3 linked regions of the Homo sapiens genome follow. The protein of the gene in region 3 binds, or shares a complex with, the protein of the main gene of each other region. Each region holds a gene or a part of one and is shown on either strand. Other genes may lie near its edges. The genes, in order: KCND2, KCND3 and KCNIP1. A codon is read from its position in the direction of its gene.

Region 1 (8,091 bases), on a different chromosome or scaffold from region 3:
ATATATATTATAAAATACTTTGATAATTACATCTACAATCTATGTATTACGATGTAAAATAGGAATTATGGTTCTTAGAGGAAAAATGTACACCATAAGTATCTATTCATATGAAAATAATAGTTCAAGTATACCTGGAAACTTTTCATTTAAATGCATTGAACCACTTTATAGACATTTCAATATACATTGTATATATTTGTGTCTTTATTAGGGCATAGATTTTGTTTTTCATTGTCATATTTTTATATATTAATATAAATATTGCTACTACTTTCATATATTCAGGAATTCTAAAATTTCTTTGTATCTTTATCACTTTCAGGCATCAACATTTGCCAGCAATGCCTTAATACTTCAACGTGTGTATTATACCCATTTCACAGATGAAAAGAGTTTTGCCAAACCATTTAGATAATGCTTTCCTAAACTCAGGAAAGAAAACAAATGATTTCCCCGGAGTTACCATGTAACCTCGATGGGTCCACAATCGCCTCACCCATACCCAACCTCCATCCCATTTCCCATTATGGCACCTACCCTAGTGTTGTCATGGTGACGATGGTATACCAGAAGGCTGCAGGGATGCTGGTGAACTTGCTAGCCGAAGACCCCTTCTCTGCGTAGAACATAACTGTAGCGAAGATGATGATAGCCATGGTGAGCGAGAAAAGCAAGAAGCCCAATTCTGAGGCACAACTCTTCAGTGTGTACCCCAGGATGCGCAGGCCTTGAGAGTGGCGGGAAAACTTAAAGATCCTGAAGACCCGGAAGACTCGGAGTGTGACAAAGGCTCCGCTGACGTCCTCATTGTCTGTCATCACCAGCCCAATGTAATAAGGCAGGATGGCCACCACGTCGATGATACTCATGACACTACGCACAAAACGGTAACGACTAGGCGCTGCAGCCAGGCGAAGCAAATACTCAACTGTGAAGATCATGACGCAGGCCGTGTCCAAGCAGAAGAAGGCCACAGCATACCGCTCTCCACAGGGCAGTTCTTTAATGTGACCTGGGCTTGATCCGCACGGCACTGTTTCCACCACATTCGCGATGACAGAGACGGCAATGAAAAACCCCGTGACATAGTAGAACACCAGGGCCATCGTGCTGGTGTGGGGGTTCTCGAAGGCCCTCCAGACCCTCTGCCTTGCAGTCATGGTGGGCAAGGCGCTCTCCCCAGCGGTGTCGGTATCCGCGTCGTCCTGCAGGCGCTCGGCGTTCTCTCGCCTGCGATCCTTGTACTCCTCATAACAGCAGTCGCCGATGATTTCCGGGATGAGGCCAAAGAAGGCCAGTTCTTCATCGTAAGCAGAGATGCACTCGTGGCGAGGATAGTGGAGCTTCCCAGTGCGGTAGAAATTCAGGATGTGGCGGAAGATGTCTGGGTCACGGTCAAAGAAATACTGCTGAGTTTCTGGGTGGTAGAAAAAGTCCCTCTCAGAACTGCCCAGTAGAGTGTCTGGGTAACGTTCCAGGGTGTCCTGCCACGTCTGGAAGCGGGTGCCACTCACATTCAGCACAATGAGAGCATCTTGGGTCCTTTTCCTCTCCTGCCTCGGGGGAGCCGGCATAGGCCCCGAGGCCACAGGCATCCACCCGATAGCCGCTGCCCTTGCAAAAGGCAGCCACGCTGCCACCCCCGCCGCCATGATTACTTGAAGCGGAAGGAAGAAGGGTAACGAGGCGTCTACAATGGGTCACCGAAGCAGCCAAAAGTCACCCACTTCCTCCAGTCAAGCAAAGTACTAGTGAGAAACGTGGTCCAGAGGTGTAACTCTTATTCCAAGATAGGGCTCCTGGTAAAGTCACAGTTCTCAGAAGGGCAACTTTCCCTCCAAGACAGGTATTTGGAATAATGGCAACAAAATACAACGTCCTAACAATCACCCTCAACAGAACCCAGCCAAATCTCTTCCTGCAGGTGGGCTAGGCCACCCTCTGGCACAAATAAGCACACAGGTGCAGCCGTTTCTTCAAACAGGTGTTTTTGATTTCTCCCCGGCACAGTCTGGATAATATAGGGTCAGTATGTGGAGTGTAGGATAGAGAAGACGAACGAGAGTCACCCAATAGAATTCTTTCGACGAATTAGGGAACCCTTACACCTACCCTTCTCACTCTTTCAAACCTTCCTTTCCAAGTAGCCCTTCCCGCCAAAGGAGTCTCAAAAAGGCGACCTGTTGTTGTAGCTCAGGAGATGCGGTCACAGCCGCTGCCCCACGTCTCTCTTTGGGGGTCCAGCTGCTGCTGCCTCTACTCCTCGGGCTGTATTTGCAGAGATGGAGGTGATGTGCAGTGGTTACGGTGGGGGGCGTTAATAGAGATTCTCCTCCCCCACGTCTACAAACACCCTCTGTGTCTGCCAAAAGCGTTCGCCCAATCGCCCCTTCACTCTCTTTTCAAGTTCAGCTCAGGTGCAGTGTGACAGTTACAGAGCTCAGGAGCTGGCAGCCGCCGCCGCCGTGGCGGCAGCAGCATCTGCTTCCGCGCAGAACGCGCCGCTCCCGCGGTACATACCTGGCCAAGTGCGCGCCGGGGCTTAGTTGCATAGAGACTTTCTCCTCGCCGTGCACCCGGAAAGGGAAGAGGAGAGAAAGCAGCTCGCGAGCAGCCGAATCCGATGCGCCGAGAGAGCATAAATAAAGCTCAAGCGAGCTCTTCTTTCCCTTCCCCCATCCCTCCGTGCCTCCCTCCTCCTTTTCACCTTCCAAAAGCCAGGCGCAGGCGAGCAGAGCAGCAGCAACAAGTTCAAAAGGTGCGGGGGAGGCGAGAACGGAGGGGACTCGCTCCTGCCAACTTACTGCGGGGCCACTGTCGCGGGAGCCTGGCCAGCGCGGTGCGGGGCTGCGGGGCGGCGGGGCTGCGGGGCGGCCGGGCGGGCGGCGTTGGCGCGGTGGGGCCGGGGCCGGGGCCGGCACGGGCTCTCGTCCGAGCGCGGAGGCAGAAGGCGCTCGGCAGCGCGGGGGCGCGGGAGGGCTGCTAGCTGCTTCCCCGCCAGTGGGTGGTCCTGCATCTCCCCGGGCTCCCCGCGCTGCTCTGCTAGTGCGATCAATAAATAAGGAGAAAATAAATAAATAACCGCGCGCACGCCCCGCCACGCAGGTTAGGAAAGGCGTCTCCTGCCTTTCCCTCGGCTTGACCTTTCTCCGCCCCCGCCCCCTCGGGCTCCTCTCGCTCCACCCCAGCCACCCACCAACCCCGGCGCAAAATGTCACCGAGGGAGAGCATCCAGGTGGATCTGCTGGGGAGAAAAGCGAGCCTCGGATGAACAAAGGGAAGCTTCACGTGCTGGGCTGCGGTGGTTTGGTGGAGGAGAGGAGAAAGGGGACCCGTGCCTTGCTTCTGCCTCTCGAGTCCCGGTTCAAGGCGAGCGTGGGAAAATGGGGGGAAAGAGAGCGAGAGAAGCTGGGAAGGAGGGTGAGCGGAGCGGAATGCGCAGGAATTGGTTGTCTTCTGGGGGCGACTGGAAGGCAAGACCCGCAAAGCTCCGACGCGGAATTTTTAAGTGCATTTCCTCTTTCTGTTTTTATTTATTTTCAAAACCAGATTGTTAACGTTGCAGGGATTGATATGCCATCTGTCCAACTTGCCAAAAAATCAGAGACTCTCCTCGATCGAGGTCTTGACACAACTCCTTTTCCCGTCCTTTACGAATAACAGGGATGTGGAGCCCTTTTCTAAATGTCATCGTCAAGGGGCGTGCGTCTCTGAAAGTTTGCGTCCCCTTCATCCTCTCTGCGCATCACTGCGCATATTTAAAATAGTTAAAAGAGTTAAAGGTGTTCGTATGAGGGGTTACTGAGGTAGAGAGACACAGGAAAATTGTCGCTACCAACCTTTTTGTTTTTCGCGTACCCCGCCCCCGAGTCATTAGGAATCATCCTTAAAACCAAACGTAACACATACAAGCCACTAGATGGCGTGGATGGCGAGAAGTTAAATCTGCACCTAAGGTTTGGATGCTTTAGGAAGGTGAAGGATCAAAATTAACTGGTCCAACAGAGAGTCAGATCACATAAACATCCCCAAACCCCTTCGCTGCCACCCACCTTTTTTGTGTTTATGTGACATATACTACTTAGGCTTGAGTCTGCATTTGGATAGTTGTGGGATGAGATGTGGAGAGTTTCCTTTTGAAATTCCTTTGAAAATTAAATCTAGATTACTGAATCATCATCATCATAGTAATTAAGATCTTTGGCAATAATGAGGCTTCATCTGTATTGATGAAGAATAGTAGCCTAATTTCTACCTAAAAATTACTTTTCATGGCTTGGTTTGACTGCCCTTGGTTTGTAAAATAAGTGGACTGTGTGTTGTACTTTACGGAAATTGACTTTTAAGCCCTAGAGATTACAGGCATGATGTGTCAACCTTGAAAATTTGAAATGGGATACGTCAAAGAAAATATATAAACTAAAAAATGAGTATAGAAAATAACCAGAGAATTTAAAATATCCTTATCATGTACAGGATTTTCTGTAGAGATAAAAGGGTATTTTTTGTTTGTTTATTTGTTTACAGAATAGAGATTTAAGGAATCCTGTGTCAGTAGTAATGAAGTCAGAGCTAATGCACCATTTAAGTTTGAGGACAAGGAACTGAAGACACCTGCTCTTTATCTATTTGTTTAAGTGAAAGATGCTTGTTAACCAATCTATATAGCCTGCATACCTGAAAACAAACACACAAGCATGTTACCTGGAAAATGGAAATGAGGGGCTTACTACCAATTAATATAAGAAAACCAACCCCTCGTTAGTCCAAACAGTAAGGTGGCACTATGACAGGTGCTGGGCATGGAATCCAGAGGGTGGAGCGCCATGAATATTTAATCAATGCCAATAATGGCATGCTTTCCTGTAAAGATGGGGCGAGGAACCTAAATAGAGCCTTTAAAACTGTGTGGGAAACTGAATGCTTACAAATGTAAAAGTAGGAGCTTAACTCACAAAAGCCCCAAAGAAGCAAGAACATAATATGTACAGTTTTTAAGAAGGTACTGGGATCTGCCCTCCTGCATCTTCAACAAGCTTCTTGATATAGTGGAAAGAATGTGGGCTGAGAACTTAAACACATCTAAATTCAAAATCTTGCTTAAGAAATTACTTACTGGCTTTGTTTCATTTGGCAAATTACTTCTATGATTAGAAATTATAGATAATGAAATTTAACTTTTCAGGCCTGTCGTGAAGATGAAACAGGATCATACTTCTGAACACCAGTGAAATACTTAGCACATGAAGTGTACTCAATATTGGTTCTTTTTTATTGTAATGCATAATGCTAATGCAATTCATTTTATCCAGCCCGTATTTGGAATTCCCTTAGATACTTTCCATAGTTATGTATTGCTTAATGACAGGGATACATTCTGAGAAATGTGTCTTTAGGAGATTTCATCACTGTCTGAATATCATAGAGCGTACTTACACAAACTTAGGTGGTATAGCCTACTACACACCTATGCTATATGGTACAGCCTATTGCTCCTAGACTACAAACCTGCCATCATGTTACTGTACTGAACACTGTAAGCAATTTGTAACACAGTGGCAAGTATTTGAACCTCTAAACATATATATACACAGAAAAGTTGCAGTAAAAATACAGTATAAAATATTTTTAAGAACGGTACACCTTTATTTGGCACTTCCTATGAATGGAGCTTACAGAACTGGAAGTTTCTCTGGGTGATCAGTGAGTAAGTGGTGAATGAATGTGAAGGCATAGCACATTACTGTACACTTCTGTAGACTTTATAAACACTGTATATTTAGGCTATGCTAAATTTATTTTTAAAATCTTATTTTTCCTTCAATAATAAATTAACCTTAGCTTACTATCTTTTTTTACTTTAAAAACTTCAATTTTTAACTTTTTGACTCTTTTGTAATAACACTTAGCTTGAAACACAACACATTATACAGCTGTACAAAAAAATATTTTCTTTATATCCTTATTCTGTAAGTTTTCTTCTATTTTTGTACTTTTTTTGTTTTGTTTTGTTTTGAGACAGAGTGTCGCCCAGGCTGGACTGCAGTGGTGCGATCTCAGCTCACTGCAAGCTCTGCCTCCCGGTTTCACGCCCTTCTCCTGCCACAGCCTCCCGAGTAGCTGGGACTACAAGCACCTGCCACCACGCCTGGCTAATTTTTTGTATTTTTAGTAGAGACGGGGTTTCATCGTGCTAGCAAGGATGGTCTTGATCTAGACCTTGTGATCCACCCTCCTCGGCCTCCCAAAGTGCTGGGTATTTTTGCACTTTTTAAAAACTTTTTGAATGTTTTGTTAAAAGCTAGGACACAATTACACTGGCACAGACCTACACAGGGGCAGGATTATCAGTATTACTGTTTTCCATATCCACATCTTTTCCTACTGAACGTTCTTCATTCTGTCTTCAGGGACAGTAACATGCATGGAATACCAAGGCATACCAATGCCTTCTTCTGGAATACCTCTTGAAAGAGCCTGCTTCAGGCTGTTTTACAGTTAGCTTTCTTTTATAAGTAGAAGGAGTACACTAAAAAATAATGATTAAAAGTATAGTATACTAAATATATAAACCAGTAACATCGTTTATTATCATGATCAAGTATTATATATTGTACATAATTGTATGTGCTGTACTTGTGCAAGACTGGCAGCACAGCAGCATCCTCACAGACACCTGAGTAACGCATTAGGCAAGGACATTACAATGGCTGCGCATCCCTAGGCAGTAGGAATTTTTCAACTCCCTTATAATCTTTTTGTTTTTTTCCTTTCCAACTTTTATTTTAGGTTCAAGGGGTCCATGTGCAGTTTTGTTACATGGGTAAATTGCGTGCTTTAGGGGTTTGGTGTGCAGATAATTTTGTCATGCAGGTAATCAGCATAATACTCAATAGTCCCCTCCTTCTACCCTCCACCCTCAAGTAAGCCCCGGTGTCCACTGTTTCCTTCTTCGTGTTCATATGTGCTCAATGTTTAGCTCCCACTTAGCAGGGAGAACATGTGATATTTGTTTTTCTGTTTCTATGTTAATTCACTTAGGATAGTGGTCTCCAGCTCCATCCATGTGGCTGCAAAGGACATGATTTGTTTTTTTTATTGGCTGCACAATATTCCATACTATGTATGTGCTACATTTACTTTATCTAGTCCACTGTTGATGGGCATCTAGGTTGGTGTCATGTCTTTGATATTATGAATAGTGCTGTGATGAACGTACATGTGCGAGTGTCTCTAGGGCAGAACAATTTCTATTCCTTTGGATATGTATCCAGTAATGAGATTGCTGGGTTGAATGGTAGTTCTATTTGAAATTCTTTGAGAATCTCCAGACTGCTTTCCACAGTGATCATGGCAATCAAGCAAGAGAAAGAAATAAAAGGGATCTAAATAGAAAGAGAGGAAATTAAACTACTTCTCTTTGAAAACTATATGATTTCATACCTAGAAAACCCCATAGTCTGCCCAAATGCTCCTGTCTCTGTGAACAACTTCAGCAAAGTTTCAGGATACAAAATCAATGTACAAAAGTTAGTAGCATTTCTACACATCACTAACATCCAAGCTGAGAGTCAAATCAAGAATGCAATTCCATTCACAATAGTCCATTATAATCTTATGGAACCACTGTGTATATGTGATCCATCATTGACTGAAATGTCGTTATTTGCTATATGTCTGTCTGTATTTACTCTTCCCTCCGAATTCAAAAATCCCCTTGTTCTGATATTCAGATGATAGTGATATTTTAGTCTTCATTCATGCATTGAAATGCTATGTGAAAAGTAGGCATACAAATTCTCGAAGAGCACGGTATATATCTCCCTTGCTTAGGGATTCTTATTCTTTACTCTTCTCATTTTATATACTCTGTTTGGTTGATTACAAGGAAAACAAACTCAGCAGGATCAACCTTGAATGCATCATCTCTCTCTTCCAATCATCTACTCCCTCTTTTCTCTTTTGATCAGTGAAGTCCCACAAAGAAACCTGGTGGTCATCCTGTTCTTTACTACTTGCCCCCCAGCAAACACCCAGACATAGCCAATGACCCAATAGGTCTTATATATTCCACCCTCATTACCATCT
Region 2 (6,507 bases), on a different chromosome or scaffold from region 3:
CTCATGGCTTATCCTAGGCTGATTTGAATCCCAGAGACTGACTTTTCCCTCCCCCTCTGCTTATATTTAGGCCACTTCCCACTACCTCCAAATGCGTTGCAGAGAATTCAGGGAATGCAAATGCCAAATGCCACAAATGATAGATATACAATCACTGGTGGGGGTGATGTACATTCTGCAATTCAAAGCCTACTATATACAACTTGGTAATTTCTGGTAGTTTGGGAATAATAATTAGAATGGATAATTACAAGTTGATTACAAAAGGCAGAGATAGAGGCACAACAAAATATCCTCCTAGTTACCACGAGCAAGAAATGTAGGGGGTCAAGGAAGCTTTGGGACGCTGGCCAGCAGGAACCATCATCAACTCACTCTTTTCTATCCCAGTCGCTCCAGCCTTAATTTGAAAGCAGACGACGGACTGAGACCAAACTGCAAAACATCCCAGATCACCACAGCCATCATCAGCATCCCCACTCCCCCAGCGCTAACCCCAGAGGGGGAAAGTCGGCCACCCCCTGCCAGCCCAGGCCCCAACACGAACATTCCTTCCATAGCCAGCAATGTTGTCAAGGTCTCCGCCTTGTAAAACCACTGGACAGAGGGCCAGAGTGGGTAGTGGGGAATGAAGGGGACTGGCATGTTGGTGGGTGGTCACTGAGACCACTCCCTCCCCCCTTTCCCCACTATTTCTGCCTGCCCCATTGTACCCCTAGCACTGAGACTTGTGCCTGGAAGGAAAAAGAGGTAGCAAAGGGGCACCTGAGGTTCACGCTGCTAGCGTGGACATAGCCCTGTGATACTGCATCTCACTGGGGCCAGAGGAAGGGAGGGAGGGTGGGGGGGTCGGGGATAGGCCGGGGGATATAGGCTATGTGCCAGGACAGGGCCTGGATGGAGGAGCCTCAGACTCAGACCAAATAACAGTCGTTTCTGGAGACCCCAGTGAGGAAAATACAAGACCAAGAGCAGCAAAGAGGCCAAGTTGTCACAAGCAAAACAGGAAGAAAATATAACACTGTGTATTTAAGCACCTTTTTCAAGGCTCTTAATGGATAATATTTATTCATGGGAAAAGGTGGAAAACAAAAACACCAACGGATTTTTGTGAAATGTTTTTCTCCATGGACCCAACACCTTTGAACCAAAACAATGCATTTTGTGAGGGATTTTTTTTTCTCCTTTTATAGCAAAAGCTTTTAGGCTAAGAAGTCAGTTATTGCTGAGTTCTCTCTCCATTCCCCCAGGTGGGTGAGGTCAACTGAGCCTGGGCCCCCACTGCCCAGCTGACCTGTGCAGAGCTGCCAAGTGACCACACGGCAATCCTTACCCTTTGTCTGTCCCTGTCTCCCTTGTCTCTGTACCTCTCTGCTTACCCCTAGCTGTTTCTGTGTCCAGCCATCTGTCTCTACCTGGATCCCAATGATCCTGAAACACATCAGTAAAGCCTTCTTCATCACTGCCACGCACAACAGACTTGTGCCTGGGAGTTCTATCTGTGTGAATGCAACTGCAGAGGAGGAAAGAGTGAAGCAAAAATTGGGAGAGTTTAGGGGTAAGGGAAGTCTACCTCACAGAACAGAGGTACTTCCCTTGGGGTTGGAACCACTCGTGTTTGCAGTTTCAGTTTCTGGGAAAGAAAGGGAATGAACAGATTTATCACACTGGAATCTTGAAAAGGCAAATCGCCAACACCTGAGACGCGGTCAACTCTGGTATGTGCCAGTGAGGGGAGAACGGAAGGACCCAGGGCTCGCAGCCTCAGCCGGTCATTAGGGCACCTTGCTATGGACCCTTCCTTCAAGACCCACCATAAAGCCCATCCAGAGCCCTTCCAAGAGGCCCCGGGAGTAGTTTTCTCCAGAGAGGGCAGTGGTACGGGGACCAAGATTCCTCTGACTTATATCAAACCAGAGGCAACTCCCACACAGAGGCTGTGGAAGGGTAAGCCTGTGTGCCTCAAGAAAAATGCTTCAAAGCAAAAGCAAGTAAGAGATTCTAGATGATTCTTACCTGCTATGAAAGATGCCTTGATGTCTGAAGAGGCTTCGGCCTGATCTCCCTGAAGATGCTGAAATGGGGGAGAAGCCTCATCACCTCTGTGCAAGCAAAGGAGTGAAGATTATTTCTTGAACACCTGGACAACATATCTATTCAACTAGCTTGCACCCTGGTGGAGCTGGGGGCAGCATTTCTGGAATCCTCCTAACCATTGTTCACTGCTTGTAGCAGAGTAGGTGGGCCTCAGGGTTAGTGACAAGTCCTTTCCTGCCCTTCCCAACACCCAGCCACCTTGCTGCAGTCTCTGTAGCCTGGGCTCTGAAATACATGAGCTCCTCGGGAGCTGCCTATCCATCCTACAGCTTAGTGGTTAGCTGTTTAATTGTAGGCCAAGAATTTCTCTCCCCACCACAGCCATCTAAATGAGTTTTACTAGCCAGGAACCTAAAAACACCCTTCGTGGGCTTCCCTATGACCCCAGCTCGATTGACCCTGTAGGTTCAAAAGGTTTCGAGGTGGCACCTAACCAGAATGTGGGCAGAAGGCAGAGGAGAGGGAGCCTTCTTTCTGTCTTTATCTCTTTATGCTTATCCTCATTGACCATGGGCTGAGTTCTTTCTCTGGGTCCCCTAATGTGGGAATGGAGTGGTTCTTGCCCTCTGAGCTTACAGACTAAGAAGGCAGAAAAGCTTTACAACTACAGAGTACATGTGTATACACACAACCAACCTAAACACATCAGAGAATACATACTTAAATCAATTCACTTCATATACACATCTCATTAGAAGACCAAGCTAAACTTCACTTAGAGGGCGGGCAAAGGACTAGAAAAGAATTTTTCTCTTAAAAAAAATGAGTACTAGAGCAAAATTATGAGTGTCTAAGTATCTTAGTTATGCTTCATAAGATCTGACTGGGGTAAGAGATAAAGAGGTAAATAGGGCTGGGCGCGGTGGCTCACATCTGTAATCCCAGCACTTTGGGAAGCCGAGGTGAACAGATCACCTGAAGTCAGGAGTTGAAGACCAACTTGGCCAACATGGTGAAACCCCATCTCTACTAAAAATACAAAAATTAGCCAGGCATGGTGGTGGACCCCTGTAATCCCAGCTACTTGGAAGGCTGAGGGGGAGGATTGCTTAAACCCAGGAGGCAGAGGTTGCAGTGAGCCGTGATTGCACCACTGCACTCCAGCCCAGGTGACACAGCAAGACTCCGTCTCAAAAAAAAAAAAAAGAAAAGAAAAAAAAAAAGGAGGTAAATTAGAACTGGTTGCACACACATACAAACTTCCTGTGATGAATTTAAGAACAGATCATTACAGGGTTAGAATAGTGACAGATTCAACAAAGGATCTGTTTGATAGGGCACCAAGGGAACATTTTACTGGTTCCCACAAAAATTAATAAATGTTAAATATCATGTCCCAAGCAATTTCCCATGTTTTTTTATTGGTCCTAATCAACAGAATGTTTTGTGTTCCTTCCACTTCACGTTCAGAGCCCACGTCATGCCACTTCCTAAAAGACCATTAGACCATCCCCTTTTCCTCCATCCTCCACTGTAGCCTTAGCCAGAGAAAAGATCCAGCTCACTTCTGGTCCAAAAAATGTCAACGTTTGGAAAATGGCTCATCTACACTACAGAACACAGCCAGATGACACTGCTAAAGGGTACTGTAAGAAAACACAAGGTCCAAAGTATGCTGAATTGGTTTCATAAGTCTAACTCATTGGCCAGTGACTGAAAAACCAGGATATCAGGATTTTCTGGGGGCCAATAGCCATGACCCTTGAGCTTTCATAGTTCATGAACCACTTTGACATAATAAAATATTCCCAAAACCACCTATTCCATTCAGTCCCACTCAGCATTAAGAGGGGGAGGGAAAAACAAACCAACCAACCAACCTAACAGTTACATTCAAATGTCAAATGAATGTGAACCTAGAAAATGTAGTATTAAGAGCATATCAGAACTAGAAAAGATTTAAGAATATCTAATTCATTTTACAGTATAGAAAACTGAGACCCAGAGAAATTAAATGACTTGTTCAAGGTCATGCAGTTATTTAATGACAGATCTGAGACCAGAACACGAGTCTTTTGGCTATTAGTCTAATGCATTTTCTACCACACCCACTGCCTCTGAGAGCAGTGATGCTTTGGAGAAGATCCATCAAAGAATCCATACTGTAATTGGAGACATAGTCTTATATGTCAATACGTATATGTCAATACTACTTGGACACAGCCCTTGGAAATCACCTGACTGTACCAATACAAACCATACTTTGGAAACCACCATTCTCTGGGTAGAAACATCTATGGACTATCAATTTTGTCAGAAATCAGTGAACAAGTGAAGAGTCAATTTTTTTTAGTCAAATATTTTCTCTTCTCAATGAAGAGAAGACTAGGACAGTGACATTTTGAAGCATACCTTTTATACTCCTTGTGGTTCTTATGACAGTCTGTGATGGTAGTAGGTAAAGTAGCTAAATCCTTGATTCAGAGAGGGGAAAACATGTGGAAAGAAACTGAACGACTTATCCAAGTTCACATGACAAGTTAGTGGCAGAACCATTATTGCAATCCAGGACTTAAGACATCTTGTCCTAGGATTTTTCCTCCACATTATATTGCACTGCTCTGAGGCTTGCTTATATTTTTCATACCTGGATTTCCAGGGTGGTGACGTGGGGGAGGGAAGTATTCAATTCAGAACCACCGTGAACCAAGATCTCTGGAAACAAACTCTGTACTATTTCTCCTTCATCTCCTATTTTCATAACTAGTGCCAAGCTCAGGACTAACTGCATAGACTCCCTTTCAAAAGACCAATAGATATTCTCAGTGACAGTTGAACACATTAGTTTACAATCACACAGAATTTGAACAGAACTTAAAGTTGACAGTTAATGCCGATCTATAATTAACAAAAATGTCAACTTGTGGATATGCTGATGATTTTATCCAGTTTTCAAAATATGATTCCTACAGTTCAGGATATCACTTATTAGATTGTAGACAAGGAAAATGTACATTGGGACATTATGTACTTAAGAGTTTTTCCTTAAGTTTTGCAGAGGAAGTGGTTGAAAATTGAGCTAACACTAGATTTCGAGGTTACTAAAGAATTCCAGTTTTCCAGTCTCCCACTTCAATTACCAGGTAACTATAAGGCAAAAATATCCCAATGCTGTGAACTTAAGGCAATATTCATTTCCTTTCTACACTACTTGGCATGGTAACCATGACAAACTTTTATTTTCTCTTTCTGATTTCCTAATGAAATCTCATTATTTGCAAAGCTTTAAAATGACTAGATGAAGGAAAAACATTGTTATGACCCATGACCCTCGGAGCCCAAACAGCACCATGAAGAGCATCATTAAAACTAAGAGAAAGTGGCTATCAGAAAATGAAACAGCTTTAAAGGGGTTCCTTTTAAGTCTTGTTTTCTATTCAGAATGTTCTGTGTTTTTTCTCAAGTGTGGGAATGACATTTATCTTAGCAGGTTACTCAACTACACTGGATGATGTCACTCTAACCAGTGTACGGCACTGACCCAAGTCCTGGGGGGCTCCTTGGACCAATGGACTATTTTACAAACCTGGGAGGTGGGAGGGATGGTATATTTTTGATAATCAGACATTCCAATGTAATGTTTTCCTTAGAGGTCACACCCTTCCCCCCATTAATGTCATCGTGAGATACATCAAGTGTGTTCTTTTCTATTTTCGTATAATAAATGGGCTTTGCTTATCAACATCACAATGGCAAAGAAGAAATATACTGTACAAAACTGCAGGAAGATAAAACATGAAAACTTTCTATGAAAAAAAAAAAACACCCTTGAGTTTCCTGTCGTCTTCTTTTGAAACTGTAGTGCATATGTTAAAACATGTATATCATTTACAGTATTGAGTCGTGTGCCACTGCTGTACCTGATGTATCCAATCTGGATTAAACAAATTATGTGCCACAAACCCTAAAATGACTGTTTCTTTGAATACTGATTCTCCTTTCCTCCCAAAGGTGCTGGTATATGCTAGAAAATAGAATAATTTGAACACAGATTGGCTTTCTACCTTGCTAGAGAAAACTCACAGAATCTTAGAAGGGTTATTAAAGGCCTAGAGTAATCTTCCCACTCCATCCCTCAATGTAAACATAAACAACTCCTCTATGATATCGCTGATGGTTCTTGCCTGCTTGTATGCTGTATTTGTGGATGTTCGCTAACAGGTAAAGCATTCGATTTTATCTATCAACGGCTCTATTTTGAACACTGACCCCATATTATTGAAAGAAAATCTGACTTTATGTATCAGTACTGGTTTTACTGAGTACCAAGTTCTCAAATTAAAAAGAAAACTCAGAATTAAATGTTCTGTGGGGTATTGTAGAAAGCTTGGGAATCAGATGGTGGAGATTCAAGTTTAGGTTCTAGCACTGAATTGTGACTTCCCATCAGTAACTCCCTCTTGGCTTCAG
Region 3 (7,517 bases):
CATAAGGATGAGAAGAAACATGGCTAAGGGAGCACTGAGTAGGGAGGAAGGAGGCAGCAGGGAGGAAGAAATAAATTAAGAAAGAAAGAGATACAAAGAGGAAGAAAGGAGAGGGGGAGGGAGGGAAAGAACAGGGCTTGTGTGTTACATAAACTCAGACAAGCACATGCATGTTTTAACAGGATTCCTGCAGGTCTGACAATCTCACTCCTTCCTCCCTGAACAACCTTAGAGGGGTTGCCTAAGGAGTCCTATATAGAGGCTTATGGCAGAAGGAAGGCCTTGCGTCCAGAACTTTCTGAGCTCATGGATTGACACTGGGGTTGCGCATCAGTCTGCTTGGAATGCCTTCAAAAAATACCCCAGTCTGGGTGGCTTATACAACAGAAATCTATTTTCTCATGGTTCTGAAAACTGGAAGTCCAAGATCAAGGTGCCAGCAGGGTTGGTGTCTGGTGAGGCCTCTCACCTTGTGTTGCAACTGCCTTTTCCCTGTGTGCTCACATGGTATCTTTGTGCGTGGGGGGTCTTTGGAGTCTCTCCTTGTAAGGACACTAACTCTATCAGATCAGGGCCCCACCCTTATGACCTCTTTTAACCTTCATTAGTTCCTTAGAGGTCCCTTCTTCAAATACAGCCATACAGGGGCTTAGAGCTTCAACACAGGGATTTTGGAGGGACACAAACATTCAGTCCACACCGGGGTGCATGAGGGAGGGGTCAGAGCTGGAGAAAGTGCATGAGCTAGTTCACCTTCCAGAGTAAAGGGAGCAACAGCCACTGAAGCTCAGGTTGGATGGGGCTGGCAAGGTCGCTGTATTGAGTACATCATGGGAGGGACAACAGGACAAATGGCTCCTGCAGTCAGGGTGACTGATGGGAGGCTTCTTCAGCACTCCCTCTGCACATTCATTTTGTCACTCCCTCTCTCCCCATGCAGTTCTTTGCTCTCTGTTGCAAGTTCCCAGGAGGCAGGCAGAGGGCCTGTTATCATCATCTTTCTCTCTTGCCCCTCACACTTACCTGTGTTCTTCTACTTAGACACATTCTTTGTGAGCATCTCATGGGTGATGTTGGCTGCATTGTACAGTGGGCACGTGCGTATGTGTGTGTATTTATCTGCAAATAATACCCATGTCACAAGGCGTCCGCAGGAATAAATGAGCTATTGTGCATGTAAATATCTGGTACATGGTAGATACATGAATGAATGAATATTTGTTGAATAAATAAGTGAATGAATGAATCTTCACTTGGCAGAGCATGTGTCTTCCTTTAAGGGGCAAGGATGATCTGGTAATCATCAGTTTCTGCTTACTAACTGGGTCACTGAGCAAAGAAAAGAGACTCACTCATTCATTTATTCAGCATAGGTTGGCTGCACCCCTGTCAGAAACCGGAGGTTAAGCAGAAAGTAGAGAGTTAAATCAGTATGTAAAGCAGTTAAAACAGTCCAGAGGGAGAGACAGGCAAGGAAAGGAACAATGAGAAACAAAGTAAGGAGTGCTCTGATAAGAAGCCCTGGGTGCTATGGAAACCACAAGCAGGGCACCGACTCAGGGCCAGGGAGGGATCCCTGGAGGAGATGACATCTGCAGTAGATATTCCAGGGTAAGCAGCAGGTGGCCAGAAGGAGAAAGAGGTGAGGAACATTCCAGGCAAGGGGAACAGCACGTGCAAAGGCCCTGAAGGAGAACCACAACACGCATCTGAGAAATAGTGAGGGGTCTGGGTGGCTGAGCCACAAAGGGAACACCAGGGGTCAGGGAGGATTTGTAGAAGAAGCCACAGGCCACAAAAAAGACCTCATAATTCATGTTCAATGGTTTGGATTTTATTTTGGTGACTTCACTTTATACCTACTGTTCAGAGGCAGCCAATTGCAAACACGTCCAGAAGCACTTTGCTATTTCTGATCTGCAAAATGGAGCAAGTCATCTGTACTCTGCTTCTTCAGTGGGTTGTGGGGAAGCAGAAATGAGAGGATGACATTCTAGCCTTTTGTGACCTCTCAAGTGCTGTCCTTATGGTCATTCAGGTACCATGAAAATTAGCAGAGCCCCAAGGGGGAAGTAGCTTGGTGCTCACCCAGTGGTATCCCTGACAAGTTGGCAAAGACACCCAGGGTGGCTTAACTTTCTCCTCAGCAAAGAGCTCTCCTCTGTTCCCTGAATCCTGGATATCCCACTGGGTCCTCTAGTGACCCCAAGCTTCAGCCTCGCATGCCCTCTTCTCGAACAGAGAAGGCAGGAGGGAAGCAGGGACCAGCCCCTGCTCCATCTTCCAGGATTCCAGGCCTCCCTGGCCTGGACAAGCCCTGAGCTGGCAGTTAGGAGAGCAGAGGTTGTGAATCTGGTGGGACCCCCAGCAGGTCTTTCTGGCTCAGTGCCCTCATCTGTGAGCAGGGGTTCCCCAGGAGACCACGACAGAGGCCTGGAACCCAAGTTCTAATCCCACATCCTGGCTGGGCAACTTCAGGCAAATTTCTAACACAAGGTAAGCCTCAATTTCTCTCTGGGGTAATGATCAGGCACCTGCTTAATTCACAGGGGTTTGGTGGGCATCACGTGGACAATGTGGTTGCACAGCAGTGGGCAATGCAAAGGAAAGGAAGTATGTTAGTAAGTGCCCCTCCCCTGTTGCACAAAACAGGACACATGCTGGGATTGCAGAAAAGCAATAAATGCTGCACAGGTGAAGAAAACTATTCAAGGACCCTGGCCAAGTCACAGGCTACCTGTGGCCCTGAGGGGACAGCTCATGGGTTGGCATTAGGGGAAGCAGCTCTCAAGGGGCCTGTATCCTGGGGATTCAACTCTGTGCCTATGTGGCATTGAGCCTGTGTGAATGTGGTGACTGTCATGCTGTTTTGCTGTGTGTGCGTCTGCATGCCTGTGTGTTTGTGTGTCTCTCCACCTTCGTGGGGGGCAACTGTAGGTGTATTATGAGCCTTGGGTCTGTCTGTGTGTACAATAGCAATGTCTGTGCGGACTTAAGGACCTGCGCCCATATGTTTGTGGGACTTTCTGGGCATGCATGCTTGTTTATGAGGCCATACATCCGGGTATTCTGTGAACTGCTAGCATGGTGTGTATCTGTGTGGCAGACAGAAAATGGCTGGGTGGGATTGTAGGGGGCAGCTTGGGCAAAGGATCCTCAGTGTCAATCAAAATGGGTCTCAGTGGGAACCCAAGCAGCTCAGACTTGGGGGAGGGGAAGCTCTTCCTCCACCTTCCAGGGAGCAAACCTTGCAATTCAACACCACAAGGCTTTGAGTCCACAGGCAGGGACGCAAACTTTGCCCATTGGGTGAGACGCCACTCACAGAAGGGAAATGGCTTCCTAAATCTAATCATTGCCCCTTCAAGCACTAACAACCCGTGCCCAGGAGCTGATGGCTAATGAATTATTGAGCTGGAAAGGGAGAAGAGGTAGAACCAAGGAGGAAAGAAACAGAAAAATGAGAGAGCAGGCCGGGTGGGGTGGCTCTCGCCTGTAATCTCAGCACTTTGGGAGGCCAAGGCGGGTGGATCACCTGAGGTCAGGAGTTCAAGCCCAGCCAGCCCAACATGGCGAAACCCCGTCTCTATTAAAAAATACAAAAAAATTTAGCTGGGCCTAGTGGTGGGCGCCTGTAATCCCAGCTACTCCGGAGGCTGAGGCAGGAGAATCGCTTGAATCTGGGAGGCAGAGGTTGCAGTGAGCAGAGATCGCACCACTGCACTCCAGCCTGGGCAACAGAGCGAGACTCCGTCTCAAAAAAAAAAAAAAAAGAAAAAGAAAAATGAGAGTGTAAGGGCCCAGAGGGGCTGAGGGCTCCTTTCTCCTCCCCAACTCCCTGTCACTAGAAGGTGGGCCCTGCCATAGGAGGATTCTGCAGAACCCTCAAGGACCCGCGGAGCAGGACGGCACCTTCTTCCCATGACCACCCATTTGGATGTGTTTTTCACCCCTTTCTGGGTGGGGCAGACTTTCCCCCTCCCCATGAGTTCAGGCAGTGGGTTAAATAAGATTTCCCTTGAAGTCGAATGAAATCACAATGCACCACACACAGGGACACACACACACACACACGCACGCACGCACATCACACACACACACACACACACACACACACACACACACACATACACACACACAGTCTCCCTGGGGCCAATCTACTGCCCCCTGAACCTCACCCATCAGCCAGGTGCCTGGCCCCGGGTCTGTCTCTTAGGGTTACATGCTCCCGGGGCTCCCGCACATACCCCGGCAGATGAGGGTGCGCAGGGGTGAGGGCGCAGGGCTGGGCGTCCCCCGCCCCCACCGTGCAGCCCTCGCCCCCGCCCCGCCCCTCCGTAGTTGCCCGCCCGCCGCCCCCTCCGCCGCCCCCTCCGCCGCTCCGACTCTCGCCCCGAGCGCTGGCAGCAGGCAGCAGGCAGCAGGCGGGCGCGCTGTGGCTCCGCGCCGCGCGGTCCGGGCTCTGTTCATTCATGATTGGTACTCGGCCCTCCGAGACCCAGCCCGAGCGCAGGGAGGGGAGCCGAGTGTGCGGCAGGAGGGGCGGGCGGACGGCGGCTCCCGCACCGCACGCGGCGCTGGCTCGGCAGCCTCGGCCGGGCGGCCGCTCTGGCCCCGTGTCCAGTGCCAGGCAGGCTTCAGGGCACCGTCCTCGGCCCTGGGCGAGGGAACCGCCGGGCCGGGTCCTCGCGCGGGGAAGCGGTTCCGAAGGCTCGCGGGGAGCGGCTAGCCCTGAGTCCCTGCATGTGCGGGGCTGAAGAAGGAAGCCAGAAGCCTCCTAGCCTCGCCTCCACGCTTGCTGAATACCAAGCTGCAGGCGAGCTGCCGGGCGCTTTTCTCTCCTCCAATTCAGAGTAGACAAACCACGGGGATTTCTTTCCAGGGTAGGGGAGGGGCCGGGCCCGGGGTCCCAACTCGCACTCAAGTCTTCGCTGCCATGGGGGCCGTCATGGGCACCTTCTCATCTCTGCAAACCAAACAAAGGCGACCCTCGAAAGGTAAGCCACCTTCTTCCTTTTGTTCCCCTGTCTGGGCTTGGGGGTGCTAGGCGCCGAGGTGGGCTGTGCCACCTGCCTCCCTTAGTCCGGACTCTCCTCTCCACGAGGAGCCCGGACAGGTGCTTGTATCCAAAGGAGAGAGAAATCGGCGGGAGGGCTGGTGTGAACACCCAGAGGAGGGAGCCGGAGTGGACGTCTGCCCCAGCGGCAACTGGACCCCTCTGGGGCACCAGGTGTCGGGACTCTCCTCCTGGGGAAATCTCTGAGAGCCGAAGGAAGCGGCATGTTCACAGGTGGGGGTGACCGGATTCTCTGGTGGAAGTGTGGTGAAGCTCTTCCCATTCCCATGACAGCTGGCGTTTGAGCACTCAGTGAGGGTGCTGCCACACTCCCACACTCCTCCTAGGCGGCTATGCCAGGTGCAGACCTGCGAGTCCCTTCATCAGGAAGAGTGCTCTGTCTGCACCCCCAAAACCTCTGCAAGCCAAAAGGAATCAGCTGCTGCCAGGGGTAAAACTCCCAGGCCTCATGTCCTGGTGGCTCCGGGAGTCAGGAGGAGCAACCGTGAAGGGCTGGCTGCGAGCTGAGCTTACATCAAGGATTAAAAAGCATAATATCGTGGAGTCTCTTCTGCCTGGACGCTGTTCCTTCACCACCTGTCCCCAGCCGAGGCATGGCTGATCTCACCATCCGTGGGAGAGTCCTCAAATGGGTCCAGGTGAAGTTGGAACCAGTGTGTTGGGCCCTGGAGGACAATGCAGGTCTCCTTACCAGCAGTTCAAAAGTTAGTGGTTGGAATAAAGAGACTGGAAGCAGTTAGGAAACGGGAAATGATGGGTTTTGTTTTGTTTAATGTTCAAATGTCACTACGAGTGGTAAGATTTTAAGCAGCTTGACACTTAAACATTCAAATTCTACCATCAGAGCCCCCATCCTGGATACAGGTGGGAGTTAAGCTCCTACCCTACAGGCCTGATAGTGAGTAGAAGTGTAATGGGGTAAGGGACCCCAAGTGAACAATAAGTCTCCTCTTAGAACTTGGTTGGTCTCACCCTGTTTAGAACCACAGAGATCTCCATAAGTAAGCTGTCCTTGAAACCCCCTGGAAGAAGGGGTCCCAGCTTCTGGCCCAGCTCCCAGGGGCATCAGGCTGGCTGAGCCCCGAGGAAAGAGATCTCTGGGTGCAGATCTTAGGTGCTGAAGCTGGGTTGGCATTTACATCCTAGAACATAGGAAGAGGCTTTGGCCCATTTGTCCAGCTGAGTTACATGTCCTGCTGGCAAGGAAGGGACTGGTTGTCCTGTTACCAGTCCTGACCAGAACAGGTCTGCAAAGCTCAGCCCAAGGCCTTGACATTCTAAGCCTCACCTCTCACAGATCCTGGGATGCTGCTTGACTGGGGACAATTTTCAGCGCCAAATATAGGTCTTCTCCCTCATCATCTGTCTGACCACCATGCGGTCTCAGAGGCCAGGGGACTGTGGGGACAGGAAAGTCAGGGGCTTGTTTTTAAATATTTTCAATGCCTGTGGCTCTCCTGGGAGCTGGGTGTCACAGAAAGATCTCAAGCCCTAGAGTCAAGTGGAGTCTGGGTGTGAATCCCAGCTCCATCACTCCCTGCCTCTGGGACCTTAGGAAAGTCCCCCGCACCTCCCTAAGCCTCAGTTTTTCATCCATGAAATTCGTATGCTACTTCCCGGAGGGAAGGGTATGTAGGAAGTAGAGGAAGGGAAGACTCTGCCTCATATACTGTGTTGGCTGCAGCCACCAGGGACCCAGAGGAAGTTGTTGTAAGGATGTGAGAATCAAATGAATGATGAATAGGGAGCTCCGTGCATAGGGCTGGGAAAAGAGTAAGAGCTCAGACATTGCTGTCTACCATTTCCTTCTCCTGCCCCAAACATCCAGGAATTCACCCTGGATGAATTCCTGCAGGATTCCCAGAGTACAAAGGTCTTTGCTTCTGTCTCCTCGGATTCTAAGAAACAGAAGAGGGGGTACTGGCATTCAGTGTGTCCCTACTGTGTGCTTGCCATAATGCTCGGTGTTTTATCAACAACTCTCATTTAACCCTCACAACAATGTTCGTTTGAGGCTCATAGCAGGTTCGGGGCCAATGGGTGGACTCCCAAGACAAGCTATCGAAGCACTGGGCACTCAGCCCTTCCTGCACAAAGCCCACTGGCGTGAGTTGTCCAGGGGTCCAGCTGCATATGTTCCCCCAGGTATTTGCCCCCGAAGCACAGTCATCTCACTGCCTTGCATAGTGGAATGCTAATCAGCAGAAGACCCTTCTATGGGAGGCAGCTTGGAAACCTGGAGGAAGCCCTGGCTGAGGAGGCTAGTGGTCAGGGAGCCTATCCTGGCCAGGTCACTTTTCCCCACTGGGGCCTCGGTTTCTTCTTTGTAAAGGGAGAAACTTACATTAGGCATTTCCTCAGGTTCCATTTGGTTCTCAAATTCTAATATTTTTATGGTTGATGCTCTCACCAGAGCTGCTGCTATGATCTCAGAGACGTG

The links.
Region 1: the proteins of KCNIP1 (region 3) and KCND2 are in contact, whole or in part, in a cryo-EM structure (PDB 7E8E), measured with the Homo sapiens proteins. Residues at the interface, in NP_001030009.1 of Homo sapiens: Thr60, Arg62, Glu63, Val66, Leu67, Arg69, Gly70, Phe71, Asn73, Glu74, Phe85, Ile88, Tyr89, Gln91, Phe92, Tyr101, Leu105, Phe109, Phe122, Leu126, Leu129, Leu130, Lys137, Thr141, Leu144, Tyr145, Val162, Ile165, His185, Phe189; in NP_036413.1 of Homo sapiens: Ala2 (codon at 1,652), Val5 (codon at 1,643), Ala7 (codon at 1,637), Trp8 (codon at 1,634), Pro10 (codon at 1,628), Phe11 (codon at 1,625), Ala12 (codon at 1,622), Arg13 (codon at 1,619), Ala14 (codon at 1,616), Ala15 (codon at 1,613), Ala16 (codon at 1,610), Ile17 (codon at 1,607), Gly18 (codon at 1,604), Trp19 (codon at 1,601), Met20 (codon at 1,598), Pro21 (codon at 1,595), Val22 (codon at 1,592), Ala23 (codon at 1,589), Ser24 (codon at 1,586), Gly25 (codon at 1,583), Met27 (codon at 1,577), Ala29 (codon at 1,571), Pro30 (codon at 1,568), Gln33 (codon at 1,559), Arg35 (codon at 1,553), Lys36 (codon at 1,550), Arg37 (codon at 1,547), Thr38 (codon at 1,544), Gln39 (codon at 1,541), Asp40 (codon at 1,538).
Region 2: the proteins of KCNIP1 (region 3) and KCND3 are in contact, whole or in part, in a crystal structure (PDB 2NZ0), measured with the Homo sapiens proteins. Residues at the interface, in NP_001030009.1 of Homo sapiens: Leu67, Arg69, Gly70, Phe71, Glu74, Val80, Phe85, Ile88, Tyr89, Phe92, Phe93, Tyr101, Leu105, Phe109, Phe122, Ala125, Leu126, Leu129, Leu130, Leu138, Trp140, Thr141, Leu144, Tyr145, Ile161, Val162, Ile165, Tyr166, Met168, Met169; in NP_001365898.1 of Homo sapiens: Ala6, Ala7, Trp8, Leu9, Pro10, Phe11, Ala12, Arg13, Ala14, Ala15, Ala16, Ile17, Gly18, Trp19, Pro21, Val22, Pro26, Met27, Pro28, Leu29, Ala30, Pro31, Lys34, Lys36, Arg37, Asp39, Trp54.

What each region holds. Positions count from the first base shown.
Region 1 is NC_000007.14:120,268,197-120,276,287, reverse strand, and holds the start of KCND2 (A-type voltage-gated potassium channel KCND2), read right to left. Parts: upstream 3,114-8,091; 5' UTR 1,656-3,113; coding exon 541-1,655; intron 1-540. UniProt on the Homo sapiens protein: Voltage-gated potassium channel that mediates transmembrane potassium transport in excitable membranes, primarily in the brain. Mediates the major part of the dendritic A-type current I(SA) in brain neurons.
Region 2 is NC_000001.11:111,770,162-111,776,668, reverse strand, and holds the end of KCND3 (A-type voltage-gated potassium channel KCND3), read left to right. Parts: intron 1-390; coding exon 391-592; 3' UTR 593-6,007; downstream 6,008-6,507. UniProt on the Homo sapiens protein: Pore-forming (alpha) subunit of voltage-gated A-type potassium channels that mediates transmembrane potassium transport in excitable membranes, in brain and heart. In cardiomyocytes, may generate the transient outward potassium current I(To).
Region 3 is NC_000005.10:170,499,637-170,507,153, forward strand, and holds the start of KCNIP1 (A-type potassium channel modulatory protein KCNIP1), read left to right. Parts: upstream 1-4,383; 5' UTR 4,384-4,936; coding exon 4,937-4,997; intron 4,998-7,517. UniProt on the Homo sapiens protein: Regulatory subunit of Kv4/D (Shal)-type voltage-gated rapidly inactivating A-type potassium channels. Regulates channel density, inactivation kinetics and rate of recovery from inactivation in a calcium-dependent and isoform-specific manner.